Regions from separate parts of the Homo sapiens genome. Here region 2 is linked to region 1. Evidence: fine-mapped expression QTL. A gene starts in region 1. The other region holds a variant in brackets. All regions are shown on one strand. Distances are from middle to middle.

Evidence for each region. PIP is the estimated chance that this variant, and not a neighbour inherited with it, causes the effect.
Region 2: its variant is fine-mapped to the expression of DNAJB12 in whole blood (INTERVAL, PIP above 0.99).

What each region holds. Positions count from the first base shown.
Region 1 is chr10:72,349,931-72,358,575 of GRCh38, reverse strand. It overlaps DNAJB12 (DnaJ heat shock protein family (Hsp40) member B12), which reads left to right and starts at 3,657. Exons shown (of 9, transcript NM_017626.7): 1 at 3,657-3,811. The coding sequence starts at 3,679. RefSeq lists enhancers at 3,431-3,680, 4,071-4,200.
Region 2 is chr10:72,325,966-72,334,610 of GRCh38, reverse strand. It overlaps DNAJB12 (DnaJ heat shock protein family (Hsp40) member B12), which reads left to right. Exons shown (of 9, transcript NM_017626.7): 9 at 1-1,748. Among named protein-coding and RNA genes, the nearest start is that of DNAJB12, 25 kb to the left of the region's middle. RefSeq lists a silencer at 2,301-2,550 and an enhancer at 5,834-6,033. The variant G/A (reference allele first, on the strand shown) is at 5,005.

The DNA.
Region 1 (8,645 bases):
TCATAGCACAATGCATTACCTTTTCTATGTTTAGATACACAAATACTTCCCATTGTATTCGGTATGGTAATGTTCTGTACAGGTATGTAACCTAGAAGCAACAGGTCATACCTTAAACCCTAGGTGTGTAGCAGGCTATACCAACTTAGGTTTGTATAAGGACTCTATGATGTTCGCACAGTGATAAAATCACCTAACAACACTTTTCTCAGAACATATCCCTGTCATTAAGTGACACATGACTGTATCTTGTAGTCAGCAGGAGAAGACAGGCCTCATGATAGGAAATGGAAGAGGATACTTCATGATTCTTAGCAGGAGACAGGAAGATGGAAATTGTCGTGCTAGGTCAACAAACCTCAGAGAGGCTGTTTGAAAAGGATCCCAGCATTTATCCATGGACACATTAGGGACCTATCAATTTGTAGAGAACTTAAATTTCTCCAAGTGTAGGACTGTCTTATCAAGGAGGGTCTGTACCAGGCCAGCATGGAGTCGTAAGGGTTTGCATTGGAAAGGGAAAAATGGGAATGGAAAGGAAGGTTGGATGTGAAAGAATTTTCCAAGGAGCATGTATAGCTGAGGAGGCCATGACCTTGCTTCTTTCTTATGTGTGTATTTATTTATTGAGACAGGGTCTGACTCTGTGCCCAGGCTAGAGTGTAGTGGGGCAACCATGGCTCCCTGCAGCCTCGACCTCCCAGGCTCATAATCCTCCTGGGTAGCTGGGAGTACAGGCGCATGCCACCACACCTGGCTAATTTTTGTAATTTTTTTTAGTAGAGATAGGGTTTCACCATGTTGGCCAGGCTGGTCTTGAACTCCTGACCTCAGGTGATCCACCCACCTCACCCTCCCAAAGTGCTGAGATTACAGGTTTGAGCCACTGCGCCCAGCCACCTTTACTCTCTTGAATCCATTCCTGTTGGGTTTTCACCCCTACCACACACTAAAAGCCATTTTATGGTCAGGCACAGTGGCTCACACCTGTAATCCCAGCACTTTGGGAGGTTGAGGTGAGAGGATCACTTGAGCCTAGAAGTTTGAGACCAGCCTAGGCAACACAGTGAGACCCCATCTCTAAAAAAAAACTTAAAAAAAAAACTAGCCAGGTGTGGTGGAGCACTCCTGTAGTCCCAGCTATTCAGGAGGCGGAGGTGGGAGGATTGCTTGAGCCCAGAAAGTTGAGGCTGCAGTGAGCCATAACTGTGCCACTGCACTCCAGTCTGGGTAACAGTGAGACCCTGTCTCAAAAAAATAAAATGAAATAGATAAAAGCAATTTTGTCAAAGTCAACACTGCCCTCTACACTGCCAAATCCATTGGTCATTTCTCAGGCCTCACATTGCTTGGCCTCTCCACAGGATATGACGTTTGACCCCCCCTCCCTCCTTTTCTAAAAAAACTGTTTGTAGAGACCGTGAGGGGGGGCGGTCTCATTATGTTGCCCAGGCTGGTCTTGAACTCCTGGGCTAAAGCGAGCCTCCCACCTCAGCCTCCCCAAGTGCTGGGATTACAGGCATGAGCCACCATACCTGACCTACTCATTTCCTTACAACCTGCTTCTTCACATTCTCCTTTACTGGATTTTCTTCCTCTTCCAGATCTTTAAATGTTGGGATTTCGTGAGGCTCAGTAATCAGACTTCTCTGCTCTTCTCCATCTACACTCACTTCCTTGGTGCATATATATATATATATATATATATATATATATATATATATATATATATATATATATATATATCACAGCTCACTGCAGCCTTGACCTCCCATGCTCAAGTGATCCTCCCACCTCAGCCTCCTGAGTAGCTGGGACTACAGGCGTGTACTACCACACCCAGCTAATTTTTTATTTTTTTGTAGTGATGGGATCTCACTCTGTTGCCCAGGCTGGTCTCAAACTCCTTGCCTCAAGTGATCCTCCCACCCCTGGCCTCCCAAAATGTTGGGATTATAGGAGTGAGCCACTGTGCCTGGCCCCAAAGTTATATTTCCAGGTCCTTTTTGCCTAAACCCTACGTATGTACAACATCCTAGTCTGTATCTCTGCTTGATTCTAAAAAGCATCATAAACTGAATCAAACCCTTAATATTCCCCCACCAAACTGCTTTTGTAGTCTTTTCCATTTCCTTGTTTTAGTAAATAGAAATTCTCTTCTTCCAGTTATCAAGCCAAAAACATTGGAATCATCCTTGAATCTTCTTTCTCTCACAGCCCACATCCATTGCGTCATTCTGTCTTCAAAATATATCCAGAATTTTACTACTACTCACCACCTCCGCCATCACCCTTATCCAAGTTACCATTAATTTTCACCTGTATTATAATAGTAGCTTCCTGACTCTCATCCGGATTACTGTAGTAGCATCTTACCAAATCCTGCCTGAAAGGCCAAGCAATGTAAGGGCTGACAGATGACTCGGGGATTCGGCAACGTGGAGGTCACTGGCAACCTTCACAAGATTGCTTTCACTGGAGTGATAGCCCTCGAAGAACGGGATAATGATAGAACTGGATTACACTCTGTAGTAGAATCTTTTTTTTTTCTTCTTTTTTTTTAGATGGCGTTTCACTCTTGTTGCCCAGGCTGGAGTGCAATGGTGTGATCTTGGCTCACCGCAACCTCCACCTCCCAGGTTCAAGCGATTCTCCCGCCTCAGCCTCCCGAGTAGGTGGGATTACAGGCCATGTGCCACCATGCCCGGCTAATTTTGTATTTTTAGTAGAGACGGGGTTTCTCCATGTTGGTCAGGCTGGTCTCGAACTCCTGACCTCAAGTGATCCGCCCGCCTCGGCCTCTCAAAGTGCTGGGATTACAGGCGTGAGCCACCGCGCCCAGCCTGTAGTAGAATCTTTACGCTCCCTAGAATGTATTCGCCTTCCTGATCTGTTATAACTCACCAAGAGAATTCCCTTTTCAGAGCCTTTGCACTTGCTGTTCCTTCGGCCTGACCACCCTTCCTCCAGACAGTCACATCTACCTGTTATCGTTCCTGAATTCTGGTACCTGTTAATGACAGCTTCTGAGAGGTTTCTTTTATCGCGCTATTTAAAATAGCGCCTCCCACTCTCTATCCCTGTGTTTTCCATAATTTTTCTTCAGAGCTTTTATCACTATCTGAATCTATCTGGAGCTCCCCCAGCCTACACACACTGGAATGTAAGCTCCATGAGAGCAGGAGCTTTGTTTTGCTCACCCCTGTATCCCCATCATAAAACCATGCCTCACAAACAGTGGGCACTCAATATCTGTTCAGTGAATAAATAACCTTTGTCTGAAACGTATGTAGTTACATTACGTATATAGATCACCACTTAGTAAACCGTCTGGGAATAACAGGCACTCCGAAGGCCCCAGTCTCATCCCGACGGCTACCACGTGACCTTCCTGAGCTTGGGTTTCCTCCTCCGGAAGATTAGAGGGTTGGCGCATACTCAACTCTAAGACCTCCGGAACATGGAATCTGGGCGTGCACCATTATTGACACCTACACCAGCCGTCCCTTTCTTAGAAGACATACGGTAGCACTTCCACCCTCGCTCAAAACTCGGGAAAGGAGGGGCGGAGGGTGGATGTCATCACTCCGCGCCCGGCTGCCCGCGACGCGCCGGCGGGTGGCGCAGCCCTTCGCTCGCCCGGCCTCCCCCTCCCTGGTTCCGCGTTCTGGTTCCGCCATGGAATCCAACAAGGATGAAGCTGAGCGCTGTATCAGCATCGCCCTCAAGGCCATCCAGAGCAACCAGCCCGACCGGGCGCTCCGCTTCCTGGAGAAGGCACAGCGGCTGTATCCGACGCCGCGAGTTCGCGGTGAGTGTGAGGTGCCGGAGAGACTGGGGACATTAGAACTGATGGGGGGAACACGGGAACGGACCGACGGGAGCAGTTGGGGGAGGGGGAGGGGTGGCGAGGCGCGGCTACGCCTGCGCACTGAGGCGCGCGGTGGCTGCTGGGAGGCGTAGTTTTTCCCTCTTGTTCCTCTGCGGGATGCGAGCCGTCTGGAGACTCGGGCGGCCGGGACTTCAGCTTTCGGGGTGCTGGCGGAGCCCGCTGGGGTTTGAGGTCTCCGAGAATGAAACGCGCTGGCAGCCGGGACGAAGGGAACTTACCTGGAAGTGAACTCGAACTACTTTTCCCAAGGGGCCGTTCGGTAGCCCAGGCCAGTCGCCGGCCTGGGAAATATTACAGTTCAGGAAAATAAACATAACTCCTTTAAGGGAGAGAATGGGCGCTAGACAGGGAGACATTTCTGTTCTTCGGGCGCCAGGGAAAGGCGCTTCCGTATCTTCACTCCCTCTCACCTCTCGGGCTGAGGGTCAGGGACCACTCTCCCAAAATGCAAGCCGGCCTTTGCACCCACCCCAGTCCGCCGCCTCGGACTGTCCTGAAGCCGGGCCCCTCACTCCTCCCGATGATGAGATTCGGAGCGGGTGGCCTGGTGGGAGGTGCTGACCTCAGCCACCGCCAGTCCTCCATCGCCCGCAAGAGTCCAGCGGCGGTCAGCCATGTGGACGCCGAGGCTGCTGAGTTGCCCTGGACAGGAGCCTCCTGAGCCAGGGAGGGAAGAGTGAAGCTGGCTTTACAACTCATCACCTCGCTTCACCCGGGAACCCTTTCTTTTTTCTTTAACCTAAGTTTTCCAAGGAGTTTTTCTTAATCCACGCTAGAGGGGAGAGAGACACCGGGTGGTGCTTGTGATCACCACTCAGTAAACCGTCTGGGAATAACAGGCACTCCGAAGGGCCCAGTCTCATCCTGACGGCTACCACGTGACCTTCCTGAGCTTGGGTTTCCTCCTCGGGAAGATTAGAGGGTTGGCGCAGATAATGTGATTGGCAATAATACCCATAGGGCTTTGCAGTTTAGGAAGCTCCTTCACCTGTGCCTTCTCACTTGAGCCTGCCAGTCAGGGATGCAGAGCAAAGATCATTATCTTTATTCTATGGGTGAGGAAAATCTCTGAGGTAAGGGATGCCCAGGATGACACAGCTAGAAAGTAAAATGTTCTGTGACTCTGTAAATGTTTATGAAGGAAAAGAAATGAAATTGAGGAACAGCAGTCAGCCTCCTAACCGGCCCTGCCCGCCTGATGAGATTGAGAAAGCGGAACGCTGGTGGAAGAGGTAGCCTGGACTGCTGAACTTTCCTCCCTCCGGACTCTTGCAGGTTGATCTTTGGCCTGTTTGCCTCCCCTTGGAGAGGGTTTCGGGCTGTATTTGCCAGGACACCTGAGGTAACCTGCTCGAGGAGCCTCCCTGTGAATTAATTCATATTCTGTGGTGGGGTGGTATCCTCCAGCTGTCAGAATTCTGCCTGACACTGATGCTGCTGCGGGCTCAGGAGCAGGCAGCCAAGAAAGGATGGGCCACAGGGCCTCTGGGGATCTTTCTGTCAGCAGGCCCCTGCACCAGTTCAGGAGCTTGAAGGAGTGTCCTCTCTGGGGCTCAGGCTCTGGAATTTGCTGAGACAGAAGAACCACCTGCATGCATATTTGTCATATTTGTGCTTTTCTGGAAAGACTATGAGACTATACGCCTTATGCATCCGTGTAAACTTTACCATCTGCAGCCCTCCACTGAGCTGACAAAGACCTGGGATTAGTTTAGGTCTGGGACAGGGAAAGATCTTACTTCAAAAATAGAGGGCAGGGCTACCCACTGGGCTGGCTACCTGCCTCCCCAGGGGGAGTAATACAGATATATTAGGTGGCGGTCTATTGCTTTGGGTTTAGGCTCATCCCAGATGCTCATTCAATGCAGCAGACTTTTGTTGAAGATCATTTATGTTTTGTTTGCAAAGTCCTCTGCTTGGTGCTAGCAAGATTGGTAAAATGTGATCCCTCACCTCAAAAGAGCTTATAATCTAGTGAAAGAGACAAAACTTACAGAAACAAATATTACAAGACAGAACTGTAATTAAACAAAAAATAAACCCAAGGTTAGACGCTGAGGACTTAAGGACAGGCATGAAAAAATCAGGCCCCATCATCCATGGGTTCACAGTCTGATGGTGGGGAGGAGGTGCGGAGGACAATCTCCTGAACATTAAATTATCAGCAGTTTAGTGAGTGCTGTAGCAAGTGCATAAAAATAATGTTATCTCACAGTGAGGGAATGCTTTGGGGATGACAGGAGTTAACATTTGAATTGTGCTTTGGAGGACGGTGTGAGACTTGAGGAAAGGCATCCTGGAAGAAGACAAAGGAGCTGAAAGTTGTAACGTTTGGGGGAAGAGATCAAAGTGTAGCAAGATTTAGAGGCAGTGGAGGTGGTAATTCGTATACAGAGAGGATTAAGTTTGGGAAATAAAATGGGGCCAGATCATAGAAATCCTTTTCTACCAGGCCAAGATATTTTCACCTTATTCTGTAGTTAGTGAGGAAACCATTGAGGTTTTTGATAGCAGGAATAAAGTACGGGCACTGTTGTTAAAAGAGAACAGCATGAAAGGTTAATGAGAGGGAAGAGAGCTTCAGGGCAGGAAGCCAATAGGAGAGAATTGCCTTGAGCTGGTTGGATATTCTGAGGGCCTGGGACAAGGCAGTCATGGATAAGGCTAAGGTCCCTGGAAAAGAGGCACCAGGCCTGTGTGAGAGAGAGGTGCAGAGGAGAATCAGATGGGATGCTGGGGAATCAGAATTGAAGCCCCTGTGACCAGGAAGAAACCAGGCTGAAGAACTGAGATGGGAAGAGATGAGCAGAGTGGGAGGTGCCAGTGGGATAGTCCAAAGGAGCTGTCAGCCTGGAACTCAGGAGAGCGCTCCAGGTTACAGGTGAAAGTGTGGTATCGTCTGTTCCCTGGAGCTCACTGGAGTTGTGCATGGCTGAGGTCACTGTGGGAAAGTATAGACCATGGAGAGAAAGTTGCTGCAGGCACAATGGCAGGCAACACCTGCCCTGAGCCCACAGGCAAAGGCAGAGGAAGCAACAGATTGAGATGGAGCAACAGGAAAAGGCAGTCCCCGGAGAGGGCAGCGGCCAGGTAGCCATGGAGAGGTAATGGCAGCAGGTGGTGAGCAGCCCTGTGTGATGCCGCAGGCACTGCATGGGAAAAGGACAAGTTAAGAGTTGAAAAGGGAAGGATCGAGAGCATGGGCAGAGGATGGTCTTGGAGAGGTGGAAGGGCAGAGAGGGGAGAGTCACGAGAGAGGGGAGGCTCAGAGCAACCTTGAAAGGATGAGGGACCTCACACTGTTGGCCTTTGCAGCAAAAAGGGATGTGAGGGGGCTTGAAACTCCTGCTGCAGGAGGTGGGACAAGGAGGCACTGAGTTAAACTGCAAAGCAGTAGCTGGGCCCTAAGCTGGGAGGTCACAGACTAGAGATGGTGGAGCCAGTCAGTCCCTTTCTGGGAGTTTCTGTCCAGTAGCTGGCAGCCTGGTAAGCCATTGGCTTTGACTCAGGCTTTGTAACAAATGTGGAAGGTGCCAGATTTCCCAGGGAGCTCACGAGAGCATTTGTAGGCCTCAGTTTCCCCAGCATACAAAGAGAGGATTGGCTGGGATGATCCTGAGGTTCCTTGCAGCTCAGGCTATCCAATGTTCTGTGAAATGGTTGACTCTGGGCTAAGTCATGAAGGCCAAGCTGGGAAGGCCAGCCCACAGGAAAAGGAGACGGATTGCTGAGGGATTCTGCATTCAGAGTCCAGGAGTGAGAGATGTTCTGGTGCTGGCGAGGTCCGGGGTGGGGTTGTACCCTTCAAGTCAGTCAACCTTCATGAGCCCCACTGTGCACTTAGCCCCCTTCCATTCACTGTATTTCACAGAATCTTATTTACCCCTCAGAGCACTCCTATGAGAGCAGAGATCGTCTCTCCACTCAGGAACCAGCTAACCTGGCAAGGCCACATGGCTAGCCAGCAAAGACCCAGAGCTGTCCATCTCCAATCCCAGGCCCTTTTCTGACTCACTGTGAGCACCGTAGGTACACAGAGCCCAGAAACTCAGCTACTCACTTACTAACAAAGTCACGGTCAGAGACAACACTGTATATTTGCTGGGCATTGGGCTGAGTTTTTTGCTGGCATTCACTCATTTCCTCTTTTAGCCTGTATGATGGAGATAGAGTTTTGCACAGATGAGCTAAGTTACCTTGTCCAAGATGACCCTTCTAGCAAATGGCAGAGCTAGGTTTGAACCCATCGGGCAGTCTTTTTTTTTTTTTTTTTTTTTTTTTTTTTGAGACAGGGTCTCACTCTGTTGCCCAGGCTGGAGTGCAGTGGCACAATCACAGCTCACTGCAGCCTCAACCACCCAGGCCCAAGTGATCCTCCCACCTTAGCCTACCAAACAGCCGGGACCACAGGCATGTGCCACCACACCTGGCTAATTTTTTTATTTTCGTAGAGACAGGGTCTTCCTGTGTTGCCAAGGCTGGTCTCGAACTCCTGAGCTCAATCCATTCTCCTGCCTTGGCCTCCTAAAGTGCTGAGATGACAGGTGTGAGCCACTGCCCGGCCAAATCTAACTCTAGTCTGGGTTCAGTGGCTTTGGCCATAGAAATCCTCTCAGCTCTACCTCAGGTGCCTCTCCACCGCAGCTCTGTTCTCTTCTATCGAATTCCCTTCCTTTTCTAAGTCTGCCAGCTTTACTGAGAAGGTAACATTAAGCTGTTCTGTCTCTTTTTGTGACATTGCCTGTCAGCCTCT
Region 2 (8,645 bases), 24 kb after region 1:
AATCCCTGGAGAATTTTTGGTGACATGCACTGAGCCAAGGTGATGGACTGTATATTTGAGGAAAGACAAACAAAGAAACAAAATTAAAATGGAATTGGAGGCCGAACGCTGCACAGCTGCCCTCTCTCTCACCCAGTAAATGCAGAAAGCTCTTAGGACAGACAGAAAACCTGCCATGGGGCTGCTTCCCTCCCTCGCAGGGCTGGCGGAGGCTCCGCATCGCCTCTCTCCTAGGATACAGAAACCATGGCAACGAAAGTAGAATGTAAAACTCGCAGCAGATATCAGTGGGAAGGGCTGGGGGAGGGGGCACCCAGCTGCCTTTCCTCCCTCACAGGAGCCACCACCAGCCACCTCTCAGGAGAAGCCAGAGGCCCTGGCCAAAGATAGGAGGAAGAAAGAGAACTCTCCATAGAATGTAATTTATAGATGCGTGTATATGTATATATATCTATTTATATGTAAATAGGCATATATGAAGATATATATATATATAGTCTACTTTTTAAACTCTGCAGGGATTTGGTTAAGTTGTTGAGCTGATTTCTTCCATGTTTTAGAAAATGAGGCCTGTTTGGGGAAGGTACCCTGGTGATGTTTTTGCTAGACATTAGCTGTAGCTGACAGCATAAGGAGAGTCGCATCAGAGCTTTTCACAGCCCCCCGAAACCCCAGCCTGGTTTTGATGGCAGCAGTAATCATGATAGTGTGAACCCGCGAAGGCCTCAGGATTATGGTTAACCTGGAGAGGAGCAGGCCATGGAGGCAGGTGCCAGGTCAGTATTGAGTCACAGTAGAGGCCCCACAAGGACCTGCTTGGGTGAGACCACCTCTCCCCTCTCAGCAGCGCTGGTGGGCTCTTTGTCCTGGTGCCCAGGAGCCCTCCAGCCCCCTGCCCACAGAAGGGAAGGCCTGCAGAGGGGGCCAGGATCTACCTAACCATTTCCCCACCCCTAAGTCCCTCAGTGGGCTTTGCCTTATAGGTGCCACAGGGCACAGCTCCATCATTGCCACTGGTTTTTCCTAAGTCATGCACCAAGGACTTCAGAAAGTTCTTCCTCCGAGTCAGTCAGTGGTGCCGGGACCCCAGGGCAGCCTCCTCGACTCCTGAAGAAAAGGCAGTGCCCGTGGCTGCCTCTGTCTTCACTCGCTGTTGATGTGACCGCCAGGCCTCCTCTCGTACCTTGGACAAAGGATACACCTGAACCAGAATAGTTTTCTTACCCTCACATTGAAATGAGGATTTTGCTTAAAACAGCACTTGCCGCCAGTGGGAGGAGGGAGGTTTTATTTATTCCCACAGTTTCTCCTGGGCCTTCTGGAATGACCATGTTTTCCTGTGGCGGTGGGTGTGTCATTGCGCCCGCCGTCTTCCAAAGCCTTACTTCCCCAAGCTGCCAGCCAGGAGGTGATAACCACCCTCCCAGAGTTTCTCTCGGCTCTTTTTTTAAAAGTCCCCCAACAAATAGGATTCTTGCTGGGAAAGGAAGTTCGGTAAGGAAATGTCAAATCTGGTTTTTAAACAAGGTCCAACCCTGCAATGAAGCAGCCACTTCAGCCCAGAGAGATTATAAGAACTGATGTGGCCAGAGTGCCTACCCACTGTGGCCCCGGTGCTCTGCCCCCACGCCCCGACCATCTGGTCTTGGTAGATGTCCCTAGACGGGCTGAGCCATGTGCAATAAGAACATAGATCCTAAAGGATCCTCTGGAAGCTGTATTTCTTGAATTAGAATTCTCAAATTGTACATCTGTTAATATATGTTTATTATGTGACTGGCCGTGGTGGGTCTGCATTGAGCAGGGAGGCCTAAGGGGTGGGGGGGAGGGGGCACAAGCCCCTGCTGCTGCTGACACTGTCCAGCCTGTGCCACAAGGAGCTCTAGATGATGAGCCTGAATTTCCCCCGACCCCTGGCCCTGGCTAACAGCCACTTAAGCCACACATGCTGTTCCAGAACTAACTCCATCCAGGCAGAGGGGTGCTCAGGTGACTGGGGGGCTGCAGGACCTGAGCAGTCTGGGTCCCTGGGGTCCCCAGCGCCAGTCCTGGCTGGGCATCTGGGCCACGACCATCACCCTCTGCTTTTCCCTCTCCCAATCCCTCCCCCCCACACCCTCAGGCCTGCCATGTGCCCGCAGAGCATTCGAAATTCCCGGCCCCAGCCTGGAGCTCGATCCCACTCAGGAGCCAGATCCTGGGAAAAGTGTTGCGAGTTTGTTTCCATCGTCCTTCCCACCATCCTCCCCCAAACCGCCCCCGCAGCCCGCCCTCCTCTCCAGGAGGTTGAAAAAGTTTAAAATGTGGCAGCCCAAGTCGGGTCGGGCTCCTGTGAATGGAGCGGCAGATCTGCCCAGGCCTCCCAGAGACAGGGCCCGGCAGCCCTGACTGGCGGACCCAGGCCCCTCCCGCGGCTGCACCAGCCAAAGACAGGCGGGCTGCCCAGTGGTGCCACCGTGGCCCGGGAGCTCATTGGCTGCCCCTGCCCAGGGTCACCACTGCCTGCCCTGGTGTGCAAGCCGCCACTTGTTAGCTGCGGTTGGCAGAGGCGTTGCAGGCACCCCCATTCACCCACCTCATCCCCCCTGCCCTCCCTGTGTGGCTTGGCCGTGAGCCAGAGGAGGTGGGATGCACGCTCTGACTGCAGCAAAAAAGGCTTTGACAAGTGTCCCCCACCCACTGTCAGGTGGCAGAACGCGCCACTGCATCCCAGCTCCCTGGCTCCACTAGCTTATAGCCTTGTCCCTTGCTGCTCCCAGGTCCAGAGAAAAAAAAACTGCTCCAGGGACAAGGAGCACACACCCGACCTGCCTGTAACCTCATCCCCACCCCACATTGCCCAGACAAAGTCACCTGGCGTCTGGAGCAGGCACACAGCCATGCCAAGAATCAGGTAAATAGACTGTTGACATGGTTCAGAAGCAACCCAGCGTCCCTACCAGACATCACGCCATGTGACATGAGCAAGTCAGCTCATTTCCCAGAGCAGGAAACAGGCTTGGGGGAGGAAAGTGGCGCCCAGGGTCTTGAAGAAACTGTGCCTGTCTCTGGGGTCCTTGTAGCAGAGTGGTCATTCTACAAACAGTTGCTGAGCCCAAATTTGCTGCACTCAGGGAAATCAAACCCACTGGTGTCAGGTAGAGTGGGCAGAAGACCCGAGTCCAGGAGGGTGGAAAAGGATGAAAAGGCCACACTGAGGATGGTGGCACTTCATCTGATGGGCTTGGCCTAGGGAGCAGCTGCCCATTCCAGTAGGTGTCTCCTGGCAGTGACACGGGCATCCATCTGGCTGCACCAGGAAACGTCATCCCCAGGAGGCAGCCTCGCAGCCCCCACGGGGGCTGAGGCTGGATCTTTGCCATTTACTGACTGGGTGACCTTGGGTGTCCCTGAAGGAGTTCAGGAAATGCCACCCCAAAATCTGCCATTTTGGTGTGCTGATTACTTCAAACTGGGGGCACTTGAGCAACAGCAAGTGCAGGAAGGGCTTTCTCTGAAGTTGCCTCATCTGCCTAAGTTGTCCTGAACTCCCTCCTGGAAATCTTACCTACCAAGGAGGATTGACTCATTGACAACAACTGCCTATTATTCTTGGGGCTGCTCAGACAACTGTTAAGACCTGAGAGACTGACTTTTTTTTTTTTTTTGAGATGGAATCTCGCTCTGTCACCCAGGCTGGAGTGCAGTGGCGCAATCTCGGCTCACTGCAAGCTCCGCTTCCCGGGTTCACGCCATTCTCCTGCCTCAGCCTCCCGAGTAGCTGGGACTACAGGTGCCTGCCACCACGCCCGGCTAATTTTTTTGTATTTTTAGTAGAGACAGGGTTTCACTGTGTTAGCCAGGATGGTCTCGATCTCCTGACCTCGTGATCCGCCCACCTCAGCCTCCCAAAGTGCTGAGATTACAGGCATGAGCCACCATGCCTGGCCGAGACTGACTTTTTATCTGCATAACGAGACAACTTTTGCTCACCATGCAGTTCCTCCCCTCACCCTCCCAAACTTGCATTGCCATCACCCACCAGAAGCTCCCAGCCCGTTTTTTTTTTTTTTTTTTTTTTGGTTTTTTTTTTAAGGTACAAAGGTTATCCTGGACCCCAGTTCCTTTTCTGTAGCTCAAGATGTGATCTTTCTTGAAATTGCATATTTTGTGGGGCTCCCATGCCTATGTACGTAATTAAATATGATTTTTCTCCTGTTAACCACTTTATCTGTCCATGTAATTCCTAGCACAGTCAAAGACCCTAGAAGGGTGGAGGGAGCCAGTTTTTGCTTTCCTGTGTCATTTGACTGCCCTTTGCCTCAGTGTCTTCATCTGCAAAATGGGAGTGATACAAACACCTACCTCATAGGATGGTTGTGAGGAGTAAACAAGTTACCACATATAAAGCACTTAGAACAGTGCCTGGTACATGGCGAGTGCCATTTGGGTGTTTCTTGTTTGTCCTTAGTGGACAAAGATTAGCTGAGCAATGACTGGGTGTCAAGTCCCATTCCAAGCAGTGAAAGCTCCAAGGTGACTGAGACGAGGACTGCCCTTGAGTAGAAACCCTGGGAGCGGAGCAGTTGTGAAGGCTCTAGCCAGGGACTCTTGATAGAGGAACTGGCGTTTGTGAAGGAGGTGGGTACAGGCAGTACTGGGGTGGGGGTGGAGTGGGTGCTCCAGCATGAGCAGAGGCCCGGAGGCCGGAGAGTGCAGAAGTGAGCGCATTTGGGAGCAATGCCCAGGCCAGGCCCCCAGTCTGTACCTGTCATCATGCCAGGCCCACCCAGTGGCCTTGGGCAGAGAACTTTCCCAGGCATGAATGAGAGACACTGAGCTTCTCCACTCCTGGCTGCACCCTGTCCACTCAGCAATTCACTCAGCAAGCATTTCTGAACCTTTCTTGGTGGCCTGCCTGCCCTTAGGGAGGCTGCAACTAACTCTATAAGCTGAGAGAAGGCCATGTGGTGGAGGGGGTAACAGGGCAGACAGGACTGTCACTCCCGCCCCAGACCCTTGTAA[G/A]GAGATATTTCCCTAGGGACAGGGCCTGGACCTCCTGTCACTCTCACAGCCACTTGGGCATGAAATAAAGGTCCAGGGCTCAGGCAGGAAGAGGGGCAGGCGGGCAGGCGCTCTCTAGGACCCCACGGCTAGTCTGCCCAGAGCCCGGGAGTTGGGGCTTTGCTTGGGGAGGGGAGGGCCTGCCACATTTTGTCCACCTTCCCCACCCTCCTACCAATTTGGTCTAAACAAAGTCCCTAGGGAGGGAGGGCAGGGCTGCTCCCTGGCTGGATTTTTCCTTGAGGAGGCAGGGTGCAGCTCCCCACTGGAGCCCGTGCTAGTCAGAGCAGGGATCAGGCTAGGGCCTGCAGGGACCCCAGCTGGCAGTCCCACTACCTCGACTGGATTATTCTCATTTTCCTGATGGACTCAGATGAGGAGGCCTGAGAGACAGGTGCCTGGCAGCACAGGAGGATGCAGCGGGCTCCTTCAGATGGAGAAAGTGGGGCCAGAATGGAGCTGGCCAGGCCCGGCCTCATTCCCCCACACTGACAGCCCAAAACCTCCCCTGCACTCCTCCTGGCCCCACATACTGTGCAGGGCCCTCCCACCCTGACTGCAGCCTGCGGAGCCCCTCCCTCCACCGTGGAGCCCTGCTACCCGGGTTCCCTTCTGCCTGAGGTTCCTCTCACCCCTCAGGGCCCAACCTCCTGCCACCTCCTCAGGGAGGTCTGGCCTGGCCCTTTTGGGCCTCTCACATCCTGTTCTGGAGGTATTTGTGTAGTTCTTAGGCAAAGGCTTCCCTGGAGAAGAGGTTCAGGGCTGCAGCCCCAGGGCCTGGGCACCACAACCTGGGGTCTCCATGGGAGGCTGAGTGAAGGAAGGGCCCATCAGCACTGAGGCACTGTCCCCACCTGCAGCATTCCCAGCCTCGCCTACTCCTCTGCCCAGGGTCACCCTAGGGAGCTGCTTTGCAGCCATAAACCCACACCCTGGCTGGGGGACACTTCTCCCAGATCTTAGAGGGCTTAGACCCAGGGCCATCAGCCACGGTGTGCATCCAGCTGGACGGTGGCTGGAGGCAGCAGTCGCTCATGGGACGGGCACTGGGCGGGGGCTTTTTCCTTTTCCTGCCTCCGGGGGGAAGCAGAGTCCTGCTGATCCTGCTGAAAAGGCCCCAGGTCTCCTCTCCCTGCGTAAGGACAAATGTAGCAGGGGCCAAAATGAGAATCACAAACATTGGTCATTGAGAGGAGTGCGGACTCCTGTCCGAAGAGGTCACCACCCCAAGGGGTAGAGGAGGAGGCTCTCTCCAGCACTCAGGCCAGCCACTCCTGGAGTCAGACCCAATTCTGTCCCCGGCCGCCCCAGTGCTGCCCTGGCCACAAGCCCTGGAATCACCTCTGGCAGGCTCTGCCATCTGCTGGCTGCCAGCCCATGGCCTGCGTGCAGAAGGTGGCATCGTGGGCCCTAATTTTGCTTCCAGCCACAAGTCAAACAAGCCAGCTACCACCACTGCAGGGGCCACATGGGCAGCAAGTGTGTCCATGGTGTTCAGGCTGTGAGTGACAGGCCTTGGGAGGCCACCGCAGGTGCTCAGAGCTGCTTCTCTGTGGATGTCTTTAGTCCTCAGTCTCTCTCTGGTCCCACCTTGGCATGGAAGCACTGAGCCCAAAGATCGGAGTTCCAGCCTCCGCCATGGACACGCTAGGCCAGGAGGCACTTTTCATCTGTATCATTTACTTATAAAATCTTATTATCGGCTGGGTGAGGTGGCTCACGCCTGTAATCCCAGCATTTTTCGAGGCCGAGGCGGGTGGACCAAGAGGTCAAGAGATCGAGATCATCCTGGCCAACATGGTGAAACCCCGTCTCTACTAAAAATACAAAAATTAGCTGGGTGTTGGTGGCACATGCTGGTAGTCCCAGCTACTCAGGAGGTTGAGGCAGGAGAATGGCTTGAACCCAGGAGGCGGAGGTTGCAGTGAGCCGAGATTGTGCCACTGTACTCCAGCCTGGCAACGGAGTGAGACTCCGTCTCAAAAAAAAAAAAATCTTATTATAGGCTAGGCGTGGTGACTCACGCCTATAATCCCAGCACTTTGGGAGGCTGAAGCAGGTGGATCACTTGCGGTCAAGAGTTCAAGACCACCCTGACCAACACAGCGAAACCTGTCTCTACTAAAAATACAAAATTACCAGGTGTGGTGGCGCACGCCTGTAATCCCAGCTACTCAGGAGGCTGATGCAAGAGAATCACTTGAACCCAGGAGGCGGAGGTTGCAGTGAGCCCACGCCCTTGCACTCCAGCCTGGGCAACAAGATCGAGACTCTGTCTCAAAAAAAAAATCTTATTATAATTATCATCCCACAGACCTCACTAGTTCAGTCACTAAGGATGTCAGCCTCTGTCAGCCACTGAGTTTATAGGTGTCAGCCCTGCTAGCCTTGTGTCCGGAATTGGTGGGTTCTTGGTCTCACCGACTTCAAGAATGAAGCCACGGACCCTCGCGGTGAGTGTTACAGCTCTTAAGGTAGCGCGTCTGGAGTTTGTTCCTTCTGATGTTTGGATGTGTCGCGAGTTTCTTCCTTTTGGTGTGTTCGTGGTCTCGCTGGCTCAGGAGTGAAGCTGCAGACCTTTGCGGTGAGTGTTACAGCTCTTAAAGCGGCACATCTGGAGTTGTTCGTCGCTGGCTTCAGGAGTAGAAGCTGCAGACCTTTACAGTGAGTGTTGCAGCTCATAAAAGCAGCGTGGACCCAAAGAGTGAGCAGTAGCAAGATATATTGCAAAGAGCGAAAGAACAAAGCGTCCACAGTGTGGAAGCAGACCCCAGCAGGTTGTCACTGCTGGCTCGGGCAGCGTGCTTTTATTCTCTTATCTGGCCCCACCCACATCCTGCTGATTGGTAGAGCCGACTGGTCTGTTTTGACAGGGCGCTGATTGGTGCATTTACAATCCCTGAGCTAGACACAAAGGTTCTCCACATCCCCACCAGATTAGTTAGATACAGAGTATGGACACAAAGGTTCTCCAAGGCCCCACCAGAGTAGCTAGATACAGAGTGTCGACTGGTGCATTCACAAACCCTGAGCTAGACACAGGGTGCTGATTGGTGTGTTCACAAACCTTGAGCTAGATACAGAGTGCCGATTGGTGTATTTACAATCCCTAAGCTAGACATAAAGGTTCTCCACGTCCCCACCAGACTCAGGAGCCCAGCTGGCTTCACTCAGTGGATCGTGCACCGGGGCTGCAGGTGGAGCTGCCTGCCAGTCCCGCGCTGTGGGCCCGCACTCCTCAGCCCTTGGGTGGTCGATGGGACTGGGCGCTGTGGAGCAGGGGGCGGCGCTCATCGGGGAGGCTCGGGCCGCACAGGAGCCCATGGAGGGGGTGGGAGGCTCAGGCATGGCGGGCTGCAGGTCCCGAGCCCTGCCCCTCAGGAAGGCAGCTAAGACCCGGTGAGAAATCGAGAGCAGCGCCGGTGGGCTGGCACTGCTGGGGGACCCAGTACACCCTCCGCAGCCGCTGGCCCGGGTGCTAAGCCCCTCATTCCCCGGGGCGGCAGGGCCGGCGGGCTGCTCCGAGTGCGGGGCCGCCAAGCCCACGCCCACCCGGAACTCTAGCTGGCCCGCAAGCGCCGCGCGCAGCCCGGGTTCCCGCT